Homo sapiens: one gene and its partner. The protein of the gene in region 2 interacts with the protein of the main gene of each other region in a biochemical or structural test. Each region holds a gene or a part of one and is shown on either strand. Other genes may lie near its edges.

Region 1 (4,617 bases), on a different chromosome or scaffold from region 2:
TTTCATCCAGACTACTGGAGAAAACCTCAGAGGTTTCTTCTCTCTTCATTCTTTATAGAACTGCCTGTTGATGTTTTGGGTTTTCGTATTTCTTTGAGACCCTGGCTAACCCCTGAGCCTGTTATCAAGGCAGCTTTACAAGCTCCTCAACCAACTTTGGCTACCAGAGGAGAATGGAGAACAGGTTCTCTCCTCTCCCCACAAAGTGAATAATGTTTCATCCAGGATCTCGGTTGGGGCTATTTTCGGTTGCCTTATGTACATGCATCCCCACGTTCCCAAACCTGCCTACTTCTGGTTGCCAACAACGGATGAGATTATTCCATTTTGGAGAAAAAAAAAAATAAGACATAGAACCAAATCTCCACGTTTCTGCTTAAAGACTTCAGGGAGAAATTTTTGGTTAATGTCCAATTGATAGTCTAATAAACAGCAAATTTCTTGGTTTAGGAAAATGTTTCACAACTTGGGAGATAAGTTGTTAGCAAATTCAACCAGGAAAACTTACAAATTTCATATCCAGAAGGGTTCTCACCAACCACCCTCCCACGAGGGGGCACAAATGGGGGAGGAGAACAAATACACATGTGTTAGTAGTTTCCAAAAGCCTCCCATGTAAATGTCATGCTCTCCCCTCTTCCTCACTCTCCCGTTTTCTTGAGAAACAGCCATGTTTTCGTTCATTGCTAAGTGACAGATGCCTGTCCAGATTTAGTTGCCTTCCCGCTTCCATAGAGATGCAAATGTGATCACTGATTAAGGCAACCTGGATCTCGAACCTCTCTACAACGCGAAGGACTGAGCTAAAAATAAAGGTATGGGTTCAATTCCACTTTCAGATCTGCGTTCAAGGCTAGTTGATGTGTACAGCTCCAAGCCAGGTTCCCAGTTGTAAGTTATTATATACCATGTACCACGGTTTTAGGGCAATTCAGATGAAATCATCTCTTATCCCCCTACCTCCTTCTCTGTCACCAATACCCTGCCAGAAAAACTACACTATCCAGTAAGCTTTGTTATTGCAATACTTTCAAAGCAACTACAAAATCACTGTCCTTATGAAGACCACAGTACACTTCTCAATGGTGAAGTGGCATCTTCTATAGACCCCTTTCCACCCACCTACCCACCTTCCTGTCCTGCTCGTTTCTGAGAGTGGTCATCTCTCAACAGAATTAAAAAGATGGGGTGAAAAGAGAAGGATTACAGATGCTTCCGGCAGTAAATGGCGTGCTCCAAGTTGGATGTATTGACCTGGTCTCTAAGCTGGTGACAGAGAGTGGGGAAGGGGCAATGGGTCTTCCTGTCATCTTTCCAGTCATTGAGGCCTCTCTGTTTAATAAGGGAAAGCCAAAAGAAGCCACCAATAGGTTTTTTTCTCTTTTTAATCCAGCTTTATTGAGGTATTGTTAACTAATACAAATTGTATATATTTAAGTTGTACAAACTGATGTTGATATCACCTTAAATATACACACATACATTGTGAAATGATTACCACAATCAAACTAATTAACTATCTAGCACCTCACACAGTTCCCTTTTTTTCCTGTAGTGAGAATACTTAAATCTATTCTCTTAGCAAATTTCAAGTATACATTATTGTTAACTATAATCACCACGCCGTACCACTGAAAACCAAGAAAACATTGGTTTTCTTCAACCAGTTCCACCTGCCTTAGGGAAATTTCACGTGAATTTTGCCAACAGACGTTCTGTCAGACTTAGTTTTCAGTATTATTAATGTTTGCCTCTTTCTGTGAATTTATTGTTATTTCACTGATTAGTTAGGAGAGCCTACATGAGGGGAAGGGAACCTAGTGCCATCATAAGCTAGAATTCCTTCCTTTAAGTCACTTATTTTTCAGGAGTGCCATAGTATAACTTTAAGAATTCTTGTGGTTCCTAAGAGGTATTATATATTTACCAAAAAAAAAAAAAACTGTATGTACAAATCTATTGCTTTATATATTGAAGCATTTTTCCATTTTTAGATGGGTGCGTGTTCTTAAATGCTGTTTCAGGGATGTATAAATCTTGTTCATTGAAATATTATTCGTGCACTCTGTTTTTCAACATCCTTACTGGGAAATCTCACAAACGTGCACAATCTGGCATGAAATATTTGTTTGGGAGAAGACTGTCACAGACATAGAAATAACTAATGCCTTAGCTAGGCAACGCCCTAGAGGGAAGCAAGAAAAGACTGTAAAATGTAGTTTACGACCAACTCTAAATGGACAGCTAATATTTCTTACTTGAGAATCCTTTGTACCCATATTAATAAAATGCCTCGAGATGACTGCTGTTTGAAATTTGGGGTCTGTCATGTTAAAACTTAGAATGAACAGGCAGACTATACATAATCAAAGTCAAAGCAATTAGCGAAGTCTCATTTAGACTCATTACTTCAGCCTTCACTCCTAAGCCAAATAATCTTTAATCACACTCTTCAGCACAGAACTTCTCTTTTTTGGTGCAGACTCACTTTCTACTAGACCTCATCACCTGAATGTTTTGCAGGTATCTCAAAAATTGCAGGTATCTCAAACTCAAGGTGGCCAAACAAAAATCTTCATCTTACATAAGCCTGACCTGCCTAGAAAAAAAAAAAAAAAAAAAAAGTTGGTTCTTTTGTTGAATGGCACCTGTATTCATCCAGGCACCCAAGCCAAAAACAGGAAGACATCTGCTATAAATCACGTTTATATGCCCCCAAAATTCACATATTGAAACTGTAATCCTCAATGTGATGGTATTTGGAGATGGGGGACTTGGGGAGGTAATTAGGCCATGAGGGGGAGCCTTCATGATGGGATTCGTGACCTTATAAGAAGAGATGAGAGAAAGCTTGCTTCCTTTCCTCCCCATGACCCCTTCCCCCTACCCACGTGAAGATACAGCAAGAAGATGTCCACCTGCAAACCAGGAAGAAGGCCCTCACCAGGAACTGACTCAGCCAACACCTTGATCTTGGACTTCCTAGCCTGCGGAACTGTGAGAAACAAATTTCTTTTGTTTAAACTATCCAGTCTATATTTGTTATAGTATCCTGAGCTAAGACAACATCCTAAACTCCTTCCTTACTTTAACTCCTCATATCTGATGACCAAACCTGTTGCTTTCATTTCCTAAATATCTCTCAGATCTATCCACACTTCACCATGACAATGACTGCTAACCTGATTCATGGACTTATCTCTCACCTCAGTTACTGCAGTGCCTCTCTTTACTCATTTTTATGCCACCTCTTCCTTCATAAATAACAATGTGTAATTTAAAATTCAATACTGCTCATATTTCCAAACAGATTTTTTAAAAAAGAACTTACTGATAATCTATATATTCTAACAAAAAAATTGTTCTCATCTGTGCATCGACTGCCTCTTCTCTATAGGCTACACATTTTATGTAGCTCTAATCATAGTCTATATTTACTCTTCTTTTGTCATTTAACACTAGATACCTGGAATATATTTTTGAAATAGTGTTGTTTATGAAAATATTTCATTTCATGATTGTCTGATGCTCCAACGTGCTCATAACCAAAACTGATTTAACGACTACATGGTCATGTAAGTTGTTTCACAGACAACACGGCAAGGGACAACTCTGTGCATAAAGTGTTTTGTTGCTATTGATTTATTTTGTCACATAAACTTTAAGGGGTGGGATTACTGATTCAAACTTCTGCTAACCACTGTCATACTAGGTAACATGGCGTAATGGCTAAGAGAACAGTTTCTATGCAAGACAATTTAGGTTCCAATCCTAGCTCCACCATTTACAGTATGACCTTAAATAAGTTACTTAATCCCTGTATGACTCAATTTCCTGTGAAATATGAGTGATAACTGAATCCTCCTTCATGAGGTATCATGAAGATTAAATGACAATATAAGACAAGCTCTTAGAACTGTGCTTGACATGTAGCAAGTGCTCCACAAATGCTATTTTATATTGCAGTTTCCAATAAAAGTTATATAAAAGTTTCCAAAAGGATCATGATTACCATACATTCCTCAGGGTACTGCATATCAGTTTTACTGCAGTTACGTTACCAAAGGCATTCCACTTTTTTGATGATTTTTATTTACTTAGTAGTTACCCAATGTCATCTTGGCACAATTTTTTTTAAATGCCAGAGAGTCCAAGAGTTGTTCCTGAAGTAAGTTTAAGTTGCTTAAATGAAGCTAGGCTTGGGGAACTTTAATTCCTTATTTTTTTGTCTTATATACTCTAGCCAAATAAGCATATAGTTCACTTTTTTAATAAAACAAGTTATACAAGTTGCCTTGTCTTTCTAATAATGATCAGCAACATAAAAAAAGGTACAAAAGAATAGTGAGTGGTAAACCTACAACTGGCAAAGTACCTCAGTAAACCATTATCTTTACTCTTCTGTTATAGTGACCAGAGAGTGTTGTCAAAGGACATGATACAGAAGAGTCTAATATTGGTCATTATGTAATCCTTGTCAAAAAGGTCCTGGTAGGAAGACATACAAGTACTAAAAGAGAAAACTTACGCAATGCATGTGATGGCTTTAAATATTTGTTCCATCTTTAATAAGAAATACTACAGAAGACAGACTTTGACTTAGACTGAAGGAAAAAA
Region 2 (5,504 bases):
TACGCGGGACCTGGTAGGGAGGGACAGCCTCACACAGACAGGGAGGAGGCTATCGGCCCGGCAGGGCTGGGGGCTTGCAATCTCAGCCCATGAAGCCTCCAGGAGTCCCAAGAACATCATCCGGGGCTCCTTCCCCACAAGCTATAATGATGGCTGGCCTTGGCCAAGCATCCAGGGTGTGCCAGGCCCTACCCTAATGGGTGTTGGTAACAGCTCCCTCCAGTCCCTGTAGTGAGCACCACCTTATTTATGCCCAGCCTCCTGTGGGGGCTTTACATGCCCTGTTTTTCTCAAATAGTCCTTACAACAGCCTTTAGAAGTAAGGACTCCCTCTGGCCTTACATAGATGGAGACCCAGGCACAGAGAGGCTAATGTAATCAACCTAGAGAAGCAGAGTGGAGACAGGAGGAATCCAGGCAGTCTGCAGTTTGCTGTGACTGTGTAGGACAATGTGGCACCTGGTTCTGACTTGGACTCCCAGCCCACCACATCTAGGCTGGGTGGAGCAGGGGCTGGGAATGCAGCCACTACCGGTAAGGGGCTGATTCATGCCCTCACCGCCCACCTGACTTCACTGTTCCTGTCTCTGTTCCTTCTTTCTGTTTATCCTGTGCTTAGGAGCTAGACGGATCGGCCTGAATTCCACTCTGTCCTGTGACTTCCCGCTTAGAGCCCTCCATGGTTCCCAGCCACCCAGGAGAAATGCCAGCTTCCCACCCGGGTGTACAAGACTCTGCAATATCTGATCCCTGCCTCTTCTCTGACTTCATCTCTCCCACTCTCCCCTCACTCATGATGCTCCGGCCATACAACCTTCCTTCTTCTTTCTCTCCAGATATGCCATTATACATGCTGGTCCTTCTGCCTGGAACACTATCTCTCCCTCAGATACTCTCTTTTCCCTTACCCCCTTTGGAAGAAAAATGCAGGTGTTAAGAGCATAGTTTTAAATTTGGAATCAGGTGGCCTGGATTGAAATCTTGATTCAGTCTTTTATCAATTAACTATCCTTCTGTACTTCTCTGGACCTCCGTTTCCTGATCTAGGAAATGGGCTTGCCTTCAGGATTAATGAGATAATGCATGTAAAGGTGACTGGGAGAGTCACAATTTCTTGGCCTCACGCCCTCTCTGACCAGAACTCCCCTAGCTCAATAGAGCTGGCAGCATCCCAGCCACCACTGCTTTCAAGAAACTTCCTCCGCCCACAGAAGCCTGAATGTACCCCTTGTGCTGGCTGAGTCATCCTGCCGCAGTTAGCCGCCCCCTGAAGAAAGACTCCTCTCCAGTGTGGGGACTGGGGCATGGCATCCCTCCCCCAAGCTTCTTTCTCTTCATCTGTAAAATAGGGATGAGAACAGCCTCTGCCTCACCAGGTGGTTGAGGGGTTGCTGTGAGCTAGTTATGGGTAAAGCATAGAGCCCAGGCCCTGGCACAAGGCAGGTATCCATGAAGGGGAGGAGGCAGAGGATGGCCTTGAGGGGAGGGTGGGATGGTGCCAAGTGGGTGTCTCCCCCAGGATGACAGGCTTGCACAGGTGCCCAGGCCCTACAAGTGAACATTAATGATGGGCTAGTTGGCTGAGGGTGTCATGCTTCAGAAGAACGTTTCCTTGAGGCAGCCTACTTCAGGGCAGGTCAGCTTGGGCAGTGCCAACACCAGGCCTCCAGCCAAGGAGCTGCCAGCACCTCAGCTTTGTCCACTCACTACTGAGACCTGGCTGAACTGAGCCTAGCTGGGCTTCCAGGAGTTCCCACCAGTAGGAGCTCCCACCCAAAAGAATGGGGTCACTGGCAGCTTTTGAACCAGCTGGGCACTGGCTGGAGAGGCTGGGTAAGAAATATATTTCTAAAGGCTATGTTGGGGTCAAGGCAGGGTGAGGGGTGCTCCATGGCCTGGATTCCCCTGAGTTGCTTACTTAGATATCTCTGTGAGTCTAACTCCACCCCCCATTCTAGCCTTCTTCAGTTGACCAGCATTGTAAGAGCTTCCAGGTGTGAACACTGCTTGACCCCGAGGGGTCAATAGTGGCACTGAGGTAGCCTGAGTTCCTGTCCTGCAGGGGAAGTAGAGGTAGAATTCTGACCCCCAAACGCAGGCTGTCAGCTGGAACTGGATGGCCCTGGACTTGCTCAGGGAGGTGATGTTCAGACCTTCCCATTTTAATTATAATGAAGTATTAACATGAACAGTGTAGGGGGAAAAGGTGGTCATGGGAGCACACTGGGTAGTGAGATCCCAGAGAGGCTCCCAGAGGAAGTGGCCTCTATGCTGAGATCTGAAGGATGAGGATGTGGGAGTCAAAGGAATGTTCCAGGTGGAGGGAGCAGCTTTTGCAGAAGTGTAGAGGTGAGTGATATATGGTGCCTGTGAGCACCCCATAGACATTCACATGGTCTGGACAGAGTGTGGGTGTGGAGGTGGGGATGAGAGTTGAAATCAAGCAAGTAGGAAGGCAAGGTCACTAAGGGTTTGAATATTAGGTCAAGGTGTGTAGTCTGTCTGGTTGGGGCCTTGTCTGTGTAGGGTATCTGTGATATGTCCATGCTGTGTATGTATCTGTGAGCACCTATGTCTCCATGTGTCTCTGTGTCCCCTGCATGTCCTTGGGCACATACGCAGGCTGCAAGAACAACATCCATTTGTCCCAGCCCTGAGGAAGCCCTTCTCGTATATCCTCATGCCCTGCCAGGCCTCCAGGTGCTGGAGTTGGAGGTGTTTCCAGCAAGGCTGCAGCCAGGCTACATGGGGACCTCAACCAGCCACTCGGCTTGCCCATCCACAGGCCATGCTGGTAGCAGGCCACACTGGCTAGGTTCTGAGGTTGGAGGAGGCCTAGGGCACAGCTTGCAGCAAGACCATATCATGACTGTGCCCAGCCATCTGGCTTGTCTGCTCGCAGGTCCATGCTGGCAGCAAGGCTGCATTGGCTGCCCTGTGCCCAGGAGACCTGATCCAGGCCATCAATGGTGAGAGCACAGAGCTCATGACACACCTGGAGGCACAGAACCGCATCAAGGGCTGCCACGATCACCTCACACTGTCTGTGAGCAGGTATGCACAGGTGGGCTGGGCTGGGAGGATGGAAGGACGAGGTGGGCAGTTATGGGCAGCTGGCATTTTGGGTGAGCCCAGCTTCACACAGCCTCTCTGCCTCAGCTCCTGGGTGCCCCATCCAGGAACAGTCCCAAGGAGTAGCACTTTCATGGGGGCCTGGCAGATACTGTTTAGAGTTATAGCTTAAGAAGGGAAGAAATCCCCTTTTAACTTAGACTAGAAGTGTGTTGGGGCACTTATGGCAAGTGTTGCAGGCAACTGAAATAAGACCTTGAATAGCCTCTGGGGCATTTGTTTCATTCCTTTCCCCTCCCCTGAGTGACCAGCTTGATGACCATTTCAAAGTAGTTTCTTGTGCAACACCTCATTTAACCCTCATTTACCAACTTAAAAAAGGGCTACTATAGTCCCCACTTCACAGATGAGACAAGTGAGGCTCAGAAAGGTTAGATGGTGCTTAAAGTCACACAGAGAGGGAGTGGGGTAGCAAAATTTGATTTTGGGGCTCTCTCCTAAGACTACAGACCCTTAACTTGGCTGCTGACTACTCCTACCAGCCCCTCAGCTGCCCTGCCACAGCTGTCGCCACCGTGGCCCACACCTCTGCCCTGGTTAAATCTGGATTTGGGAAAAGTTCCCACTAAGGACTGTGTAATGCTTTGCAGCCAATCAAGAAGGGGAGGACAGGGGGTTACCAAGCCCATCTGTGCTCCATAAATGATCCTGGGATAGAAGGTCCACTGGGGGTGGGGGTGGGGGGACCCAGCCTTGCTCAGGTCCTGGGTCTTTACTCAGCTCTGAGAAGCAGTTGGCCTAAGCCTGGCTGAGTGGGATCTCCCCACTCCCCTGCCCACCTTGATCCACAGAAGTCGGGCATAACTTATCAGCTCTGCCGTGTTCACTGCTGAGGGGATTTCCATGACCCCCTGTGGAAGTACGTGGGCAAAGCCTCCCCAAACCACAACACAGCTAACCATGCCTCTGAGCTGGCAGGGTGGGAGGTAAGCCACTGGCTTGGAGCCTTTAAACATGGTGGAGAGGCCTGTGAGGTCAGCCCTGTTTGTGCTTGGCCCTGGCACACGGTGAGGATGCTCCATCTTTGGAGTTCAGCAAAGCTGGTCCTCATCCAGCCTCTGGAGCCTTAGGTGCCCAGATGACCTCTATGAGCCCGGGGTTTCCTTTCCCATTAACGGATCACATTCATCACCCTCCTCCAGACTGAGATACAGGCTGGATGGGGGAAATGTCAGCATTGCTCTGCCCATGAGTGACCTCTGAAGCTTCCCCACTTGGCTGGGATCCTGGCCCCTGACTCACCTCCAGCCTTGACTCTGTGTGGCTGAACAAGGGCAGCCCTAGTGGTAGTGGAGTAGTGGGGAGGAGTGCCTCAGAGGGGGCCTGAGTCAGGAGCTTCTCAGAGTGTATGATGTCAGCGGAGGGTGGTGGGGTGGAGGTCCCCCTCCTTCTTTCCTTCCTTCCTTCCTTCCTTCCCCAGTCCTTTGTTCCAAACCAGGCATGGATGGAGCCAGAGGTCCACTGACCTGTTCCACTCTGAGCATTTCAGCCCCAAAATGTCACTGGCCATGGAGCAGATGAGAGCACATTCTCTACTATTACAGAGCTGGGTTGAGAATTATGCTCATAATTTTACCCATAAAAGAGAGAGAGGGAGAGATAACTATGCTGTGCTCCAGAAAGTGATTTAATCTCTTGAGCCCATAACTTCCTCAACCAAAAATATGGACCATCTTGCGCTCTGGACATTGAGTGATGATGTACCAGGCCTGCTCAGTCAGAGTGAAAACCTGAGTCCTGCCCTGCAGCCCCCTCACACATGCAGACTCTGGGGGATCAAGACATGAGGGCCACCTTGACTTTCTGAGCCAACATTTCTTCTCCTGGACACTTGCCCACCTGCAAGCTTTCTGACTCTGCTCCCTATCTTGCCTGCTATGCCAGGACCTATGCCTGGCCCCCAACGACACTCCTCCCCGCCCCCACCACACACACCCACACAGCAAGGGCTCTGCAGTAAATCAGCCTGTTGAGCTGGCTGGAGTGAGCTACCCTGTGCTCTCACTCCCAGGGTTCTACCCCAGACCAGCTTCCCTATCTGCCCTCTTGTGTACAGAGAGCTCTAATCCCCCCACCAACTCCCCCACAGAATGAAAAGTGTATCAAAGGCCCAGCTTCCCCACTGGGCTTCTTTTGCTTTGAGCCCAAAGCCAGGCATCCAACAATCCAAGCAAAATCACACTTCCTGGGCATGTTCTATAGGTCCAGGACCTTTCTGACATCAACTCCAACACTGAGGCCACTGATAGAGTCCCTGTTGTCCATCACATGTGGCCCAAGGTACCTTTGCACAGCCTACCCTTTGCCTGTCATTTTGTTTAAAGAGCCCAGCCTGGGATGGGGGTTGACACATGATTAAGCCCTTCATTCTG

Evidence for each region. Proteins that work in one complex are often made in the same cells at the same time.
Region 1: the proteins of PDLIM4 (region 2) and DOCK4 interact in a test that uses a peptide from one of them, tested with the Homo sapiens proteins (one large-scale study listed by IntAct).

What each region holds. Positions count from the first base shown.
Region 1 is NC_000007.14:112,195,368-112,199,984, forward strand, and holds part of DOCK4 (dedicator of cytokinesis protein 4), read right to left. Parts: intron 1-4,617. UniProt on the Homo sapiens protein: Functions as a guanine nucleotide exchange factor (GEF) that promotes the exchange of GDP to GTP, converting inactive GDP-bound small GTPases into their active GTP-bound form. Involved in regulation of adherens junction between cells.
Region 2 is NC_000005.10:132,259,707-132,265,210, forward strand, and holds part of PDLIM4 (PDZ and LIM domain protein 4), read left to right. Parts: intron 1-2,902; coding exon 2,903-3,054; intron 3,055-5,504.